2 separate regions of the Homo sapiens genome follow, and region 2 is linked to region 1. The links come from fine-mapping of genetic effects on gene expression. A gene starts in region 1. The other region holds a variant in brackets. All regions are shown on one strand. Distances are from middle to middle.

The links. PIP is the estimated chance that this variant, and not a neighbour inherited with it, causes the effect.
Region 2: its variant is the best candidate, but not a certain one, in a credible set for the expression of ARL5B in whole blood (TOPMed, PIP 0.56).

Annotation. Positions count from the first base shown.
Region 1 is chr10:18,657,817-18,660,729 of GRCh38, reverse strand. ARL5B (ARF like GTPase 5B) reads right to left here and starts at 1,299. Exons shown (of 6, transcript NM_178815.5): 1 at 1,047-1,299. The coding sequence starts at 1,092. It also overlaps a transcript of NSUN6 not described here. RefSeq lists a silencer at 1,131-1,210 and enhancers at 1,521-1,650, 2,351-2,470.
Region 2 is chr10:18,578,801-18,581,713 of GRCh38, reverse strand. All of the region lies in intron 8 of NSUN6 (NOP2/Sun RNA methyltransferase 6), which reads left to right. Among named protein-coding and RNA genes, the nearest start is that of CACNB2-AS1, 41 kb to the right of the region's middle. The variant C/G (reference allele first, on the strand shown) is at 1,387.

The sequences.
Region 1 (2,913 bases):
ACATGTGTGTGCCTGTATCTATATTTATAACCTTGAAAAAGACTGCTTTAGTGTTCTTATCAATCTACAGAACAAGTCAACTAAAGCCATTCCATTACCTCCACAACTTCTTAAATCCAGAAAAAGATTAGATACCTACATTAGCAGTAACAAATTGGTACCAACATAAAAGGAAATAAAACTGGCTTATTAACGATGCCCGGCTCTTAAATGTAAAATGAAACGAGTTGATTTTCAAAACTGGTTTCAATTACTAAGAAACCATTCTGTTCAAAGGACGCCTCAAACTTTAACTTATCGTCGGCCCCTTTTTTGGTCTGGGTGTTTTCTCTCTTCAGAAGACATCACATCTCATTCTGATTCAGAACAGGTTTTGCAACTTCTCGGCCCTTTGGACCTGCCACTTCCAGGTGTCTCATTACCTGTTACAGACTAATTACGGACACGTAACGTCTTACACAAAACCGAAAAGCATTTAGTTTCTGAACTAAATGCTTTAAAAAAAAAAGTTTACAATGAAGATGCTGGAAAACTCGTGCATCTGAATAGGACAACTCATTCCCAAGTCCTAGAGGAAAGGAGGCGAAATCAGAGTGAAAGTGCACTGGCTTACGGCTCAAACTGCAGGGCGGGAAAACAAAGCACCTACATTACTCAAAAAAAAAAAAGTTCTAGGTTTCTGGGCGGACACTTATCCTGGGGATACACATAGACACAAGCACGCTTCAATAAAGACGAGAAAGGCCCTCCATACGCCTCCTGGCATCATTAGCTGTATCCCGCTTTACTTCGCCAATATCCAAACATTCTCAGTTTGGATTCTGGGACGCCAAATACCTTCTCTTCTGCCTCCCTATTTCTCCCACACGTCAGGTCTCTCCTGTACGTCCTCCAGGTCTAAAACACTGAGTTTCTGCCCGCCCCCTGGCCTAAGTCCCTTCCTCCTCCGCGTCTCCGAACGCTCTGTCCCCTGTCTCCGGTGTCCCCATCGGCGGCGGGACCCTCTGCCTCGGATTCGAGCCGCCGCGCAGCTCCATTCTTCTCACCTTGGTTACAGAAGAGGCTCCACAGTTTGGCGAAGATCAGCCCCATCACGAGCACCGGGGCGGGCCGCGGGGTCCCTCGGCAGCAGGTGCCGCTGCGCCGGGTCCCCCACCGCGGCGCGGGCTGCGCGGAGCCGAGGAGAACCCGCCTGAGATCGCGCAGCGAGGGCACTGCTAGGCCGAGAAGCCTCGACCCGACCACTCAGAAGGCGCCGCGACGAATCCCCACCGGACAGCCCTTTGTTTCGAGCCCACTGAGCCCAACGCCGACCCGTAGTCCCCTCGGTCTGTACCCACCTACCTACCACAGCCTCTCCACAGCCCCAAGCCCCGCCTCCACCCCGCCTCCCCTCCGGATCCCAGGACCACCCATCGCCGGAAGCTAGGCGCGTGACGACGGCGCACTTACGGCAACCCACGCCTTCGACGTGGCGTTTTCTTCGGTTTCACTTCCGGTAGGAGAGTCCCAAACGGCCAGCGGCTGGGAATTTGCGGTATCGCGGGGGGGTGGGAAATTTCCCTTGGTGCGTGCTCCTTCTGATGTCAGCCTTCAAAACGTTTGTGGGACTCCCCTTTGATTTGAGTCTCTGCTGCTAGCAGCTGCTTCCCTGACCTCTAAAACCAGGAAAGACCATAGGTTCTCTAAGTGAGCAGCCGCCGTTTGCTGCTCTTAGAAAACTCACAGAAGTGAAGAGTGTTTCTTTCCTGACTTATTCCTGTTCCCCTAGGCAGGCGTGCTAGGGGTTAGGAGTTCTGCCGTGATTCTTCTTCATTCATTTATTAATCTATTCATTCACGTATTCATTCATTGGCTTATGCATTTATGTACTCATTGATTGATTGATCGATTGCAGACGAGGTCGGGCTGTGTTGCCCAGGGGGACTCAATTTCCTGGGCTCAAGCGATCTTCCTGCCTCGACTTCCCAAAGTGGTGGGATTGCAGGCTCAGCCACCGCGCCCGGCCCCTGTCGTGATTCTTAGTTCTGAAAAGAATTGATTGGGAGACGAGCCATGGAAGGCCTGGAGCCACAGAGTTCAGTTATGTGATTAATAATAACACATAATAATAACACATAGCACCCCTCTCCATTTTGCCAAGCATTAGGTATGTTCGTGGATCCCAGATCGAAGTCCACGCATAAGCCAATTCGCTGTGTAATTGTTTTCAATTCCACTTTCCATGGTTAGGTTCTAGCATTGAAAAGAAAAGCTTCACAGCCTGGCATGAAACGAAACTGAATGTCCTTGAAACCAGTTGACGGAGGAGCAAGCTTAAAATTTTTTTAGACTCTGACTTCAGTCAGATGGTTGGATTTTAACCTTGGCAACGTGGCCTTTTAACATGCCAAACTCTTGAGTTAACCTGTACAAGGAGAATGTATGACTTACGTCCTCCCAGTGCTATGGTTTAAAGACCCTTTAAGACTTAGATGCAGGATAATATGCTCCAACGTTACAACATTAAAGGCAAGTTTCAACCTCCTATGTAGAGGAAAAAGAATGTACTGACCCTATGCAAACTTAACTTTCATGACTATCAGTTGGACCATAAATGTGAATAATTTTGTGTTTGTGTAAGTAATGGCTTAAAAGGACATTTTTAGTCCTAGCTTCATTATCACAAAACAAACTTTAGATTCCGTAACAGCTTCTTCAATTGTTAGACATGGATGTAAACCACATTCTGCTTTTTTTTTTTTTTTCTGGCTTTCGGATTTCTAAGAAACCATTTCTGAAAAGAACAAAGCATTTTTGTATGAAGATGCAGACATTTGGCTGGGCGCTGGGGCTCATGCTTGTAATCCCAGCACTTTGGGAGGCTGAGGCGGGTGGATCACGAAGTCAAGAGATGGAGACCATCCTGGCCAA
Region 2 (2,913 bases), 79 kb after region 1:
GCTGGGACTACAGGCGCATGCCACCGCACCCAGGTAATGTTTTGTATTTTCAGTGGAGACGGGGTTTCACCATGTTGGCCACGATGATCTCGATCTCTTGACCTTGTGATCCGCCCACCTCGGCCTCCCAAAGTGCTGGAATTACAGGCATGAGCCACCACGGCTGGCTTGTTTGCCCATTTTTATGGCTATTTCTTGAGTATATGCTAAACAAGGGATAGAGTATTCATACCTCCCATTTTTAGACCTTATAGGTTAATTTCCTGATGCTGCCATGTCATTTGTAAATTGTCATGGTGCCAGTGGGAGTGTAGCAGTGAGGACCACCAGAGGTCACTTTCATCGCCATCTTTGTTTTGGTGGGTTTTAGCTGGCTTCTTTATTGCAAACTGTTTTTATCAGCAAGGTCTTTATGACCTGTATCTTGTACTGATCTTCTGTATCATCCTGTGACTAAGAATGCCTTAACTTACTGGGAATGCAGCCCAGTAGGTCTCAGCCTTATTTTACCCAGCCCCCATTCAAGATGGGTGGTTCAAACGCCTCTGATAAACACACTGTGCACGCTCCCCTCCCAAGTGCGAGCAGGCCACTGTCCATGCTGGCAGCCCACCCCAAGGGAAGAATCAGGAGAAGTAACGCCAGACCCCAGAAGTATGTCAGCATACAAAACCCCAAGTCAGAAGGTCAGACCATGCACTTGATCTCTCAAGTCGCCCAGTTGGCCCTCTTCCAAGTGTACTTTACTTTCTTTCATTTATGCTTTAAACTTTCTAATAAACTTTCACTCCTGCTCTAAAATTTGCCTCAACCAAGATCACTCTGCCTTGTGCCCCTTGGTCGAACTCTTTCTCCTGAGGGGGCAAGAATTGAGGTTGCTGCAGACCCAAACAGAGTTACTCCTGCTAGCAAGTTCACTTGGGGAGAGCTTCAGAACTCTGTTCTTCCTTTCTGCATCTTGGGTAAAACCTCTGGGCCACTGCTGCAGAGATGGGGGCAGGGCAGTGGTTTGTTTCTCTTGGAGCCAGACTCTTGATGCTGGGCTGGGGTGGCAGCCTCTGGTCTTTTGGCTTGCCTCTCCTGGGATGGAACCTCTTCACTTGGCTCTTGGGTGAGGGTAATCAGGGGTTAAATACTCTTAGCCTACTGTGCCTGGGTAGAGCTTCCCACCTATGAATGGGGGCTGGGTGGAGGAAGATAGCCCCCAGTTCTCTGGCTCTTATCTGGAATTATAGCCTGTGCAAGGTGGAACTGGGGCACATGAAACAAGCTGACAAGCCTGTCCCTCTTAGGGAGAGACCACAGTCCTTTCATTCCTTGACTGGGAGCTTAAGGAGAGAGGGAGTCTTGTGTTCTTGGCTGCACCCACATGAAGTGGATCTTATT[C/G]TGAGCTTCGGAGAAGTGGAAAGTAGTTGGAAAAGGGAGAAAAGAGCGGGTCATGGCACAAATGCACAGATTCTCACTGTTCTTATTAAGCTGTGGTTGATTTTCTTAAATAAATGTTTCTTCATTTGCTGTGTGGTCTTAGGACATTTTCCAGAGGCTTCAAAGGGTTGTTTTTGTTTTTGCCGCTGGCGAGAGCGTCTGCAAAACTCCCCATGCCCTTATTCCAGAAGTCATGTCAATCTCATTTAACACAAAATTGTTCCTAAATTACACACCACCTCAAAGTAATACAGTTTCAGAGATCCCTAGGTGTAGTTACAGGTGCGAAAGGAAAATAAATCTTGGGACCCCAAATCACTAAGCTAAAGGGAAAAGTCAAGCTGGGAACGGGTTAGGGCAAACCTGCTTCCCATTCTTTTCAAAGTTATCCCTCTGCTCACCTGAGACAAATGCACATATGATTGCCTTCTCTCCCCTATTGTTTATGTAAAAATGCAGATTTATTGAGGCAGACTAAATTGTGTATTCAGTGGAAGGCTGATCAAGACTCAAAAGAATGCAACCCTCTGTCTCTTAGCTACTCCTAACCTGGAAGCCCCACTTCCACCTTACCGGAGAACCAGTGTACATTTTACACATATTGATTGATGTCTCATGTCTCCCTAAAATGCATAAAAGCAAACTGTACCCCCAACCACCTGGGGCACATGTCTCAGGACTTTCTGAGGCTGTGTCATGGACGCATTCTTAACCTTGGTAAAATAAACTATCTAAATTGACTGAAACCTGGTTCAGATATTTTGCATTCACACAGGACTATATATTATGTGAAAAAGCGTTTAATGAATAAAAATATGAGGCCGGGCGACGTGGCTCACGCATGTAATCCCAGCACTTTGGGAGGCTGAGGCGGGTGGATCACGACGTCAGGAGATCAACACCATCCTGGCTAACACGGTGAAACCCTGTCTCTACTAAAAATACAAAAAATTAGCTGGATGTGGTGGCGGGCGCCTATAGTCCCAGCTACTCAGGAGGCTGAGGCAGGAGAATGGCATGAACGGGAGGCAGAGCTTGCAGTGAGCCGAGATCGCTCCACTGCACTCCAGCCTGGGTGACAGAGCGAGACTCCGTCTCAAAAAAAAAATAGTAATAAAAAAGTTAAAATATGAGTATTCTTAAACTATAAATAATTCTTAGCATATATCTCATGCCTTTCTAATTTTGAATAAAAGAAACTTCACTCACGCCAGGTATGTCTGGGGGTCATTCTGGTGATCCTAGCCTGTTCTAAGAAAGGTCTGGAATATTTGTAGGAGTTTCATAATTTAATGTCTATATAATTATCATCTAGTACTTCAGTGAGAATATTAGAAGTGGTGAATGCAGAGATGACACATTACCATTACCGTTGACAGGTTCACCATTTACAGATGTGTCCTATGTAAGACATATGATTGAGGGTGAGTGCGCTGAAATGCAGCCCATAGTTTCTTCGTCATGGTACAAGATCATTGATACGGAGCT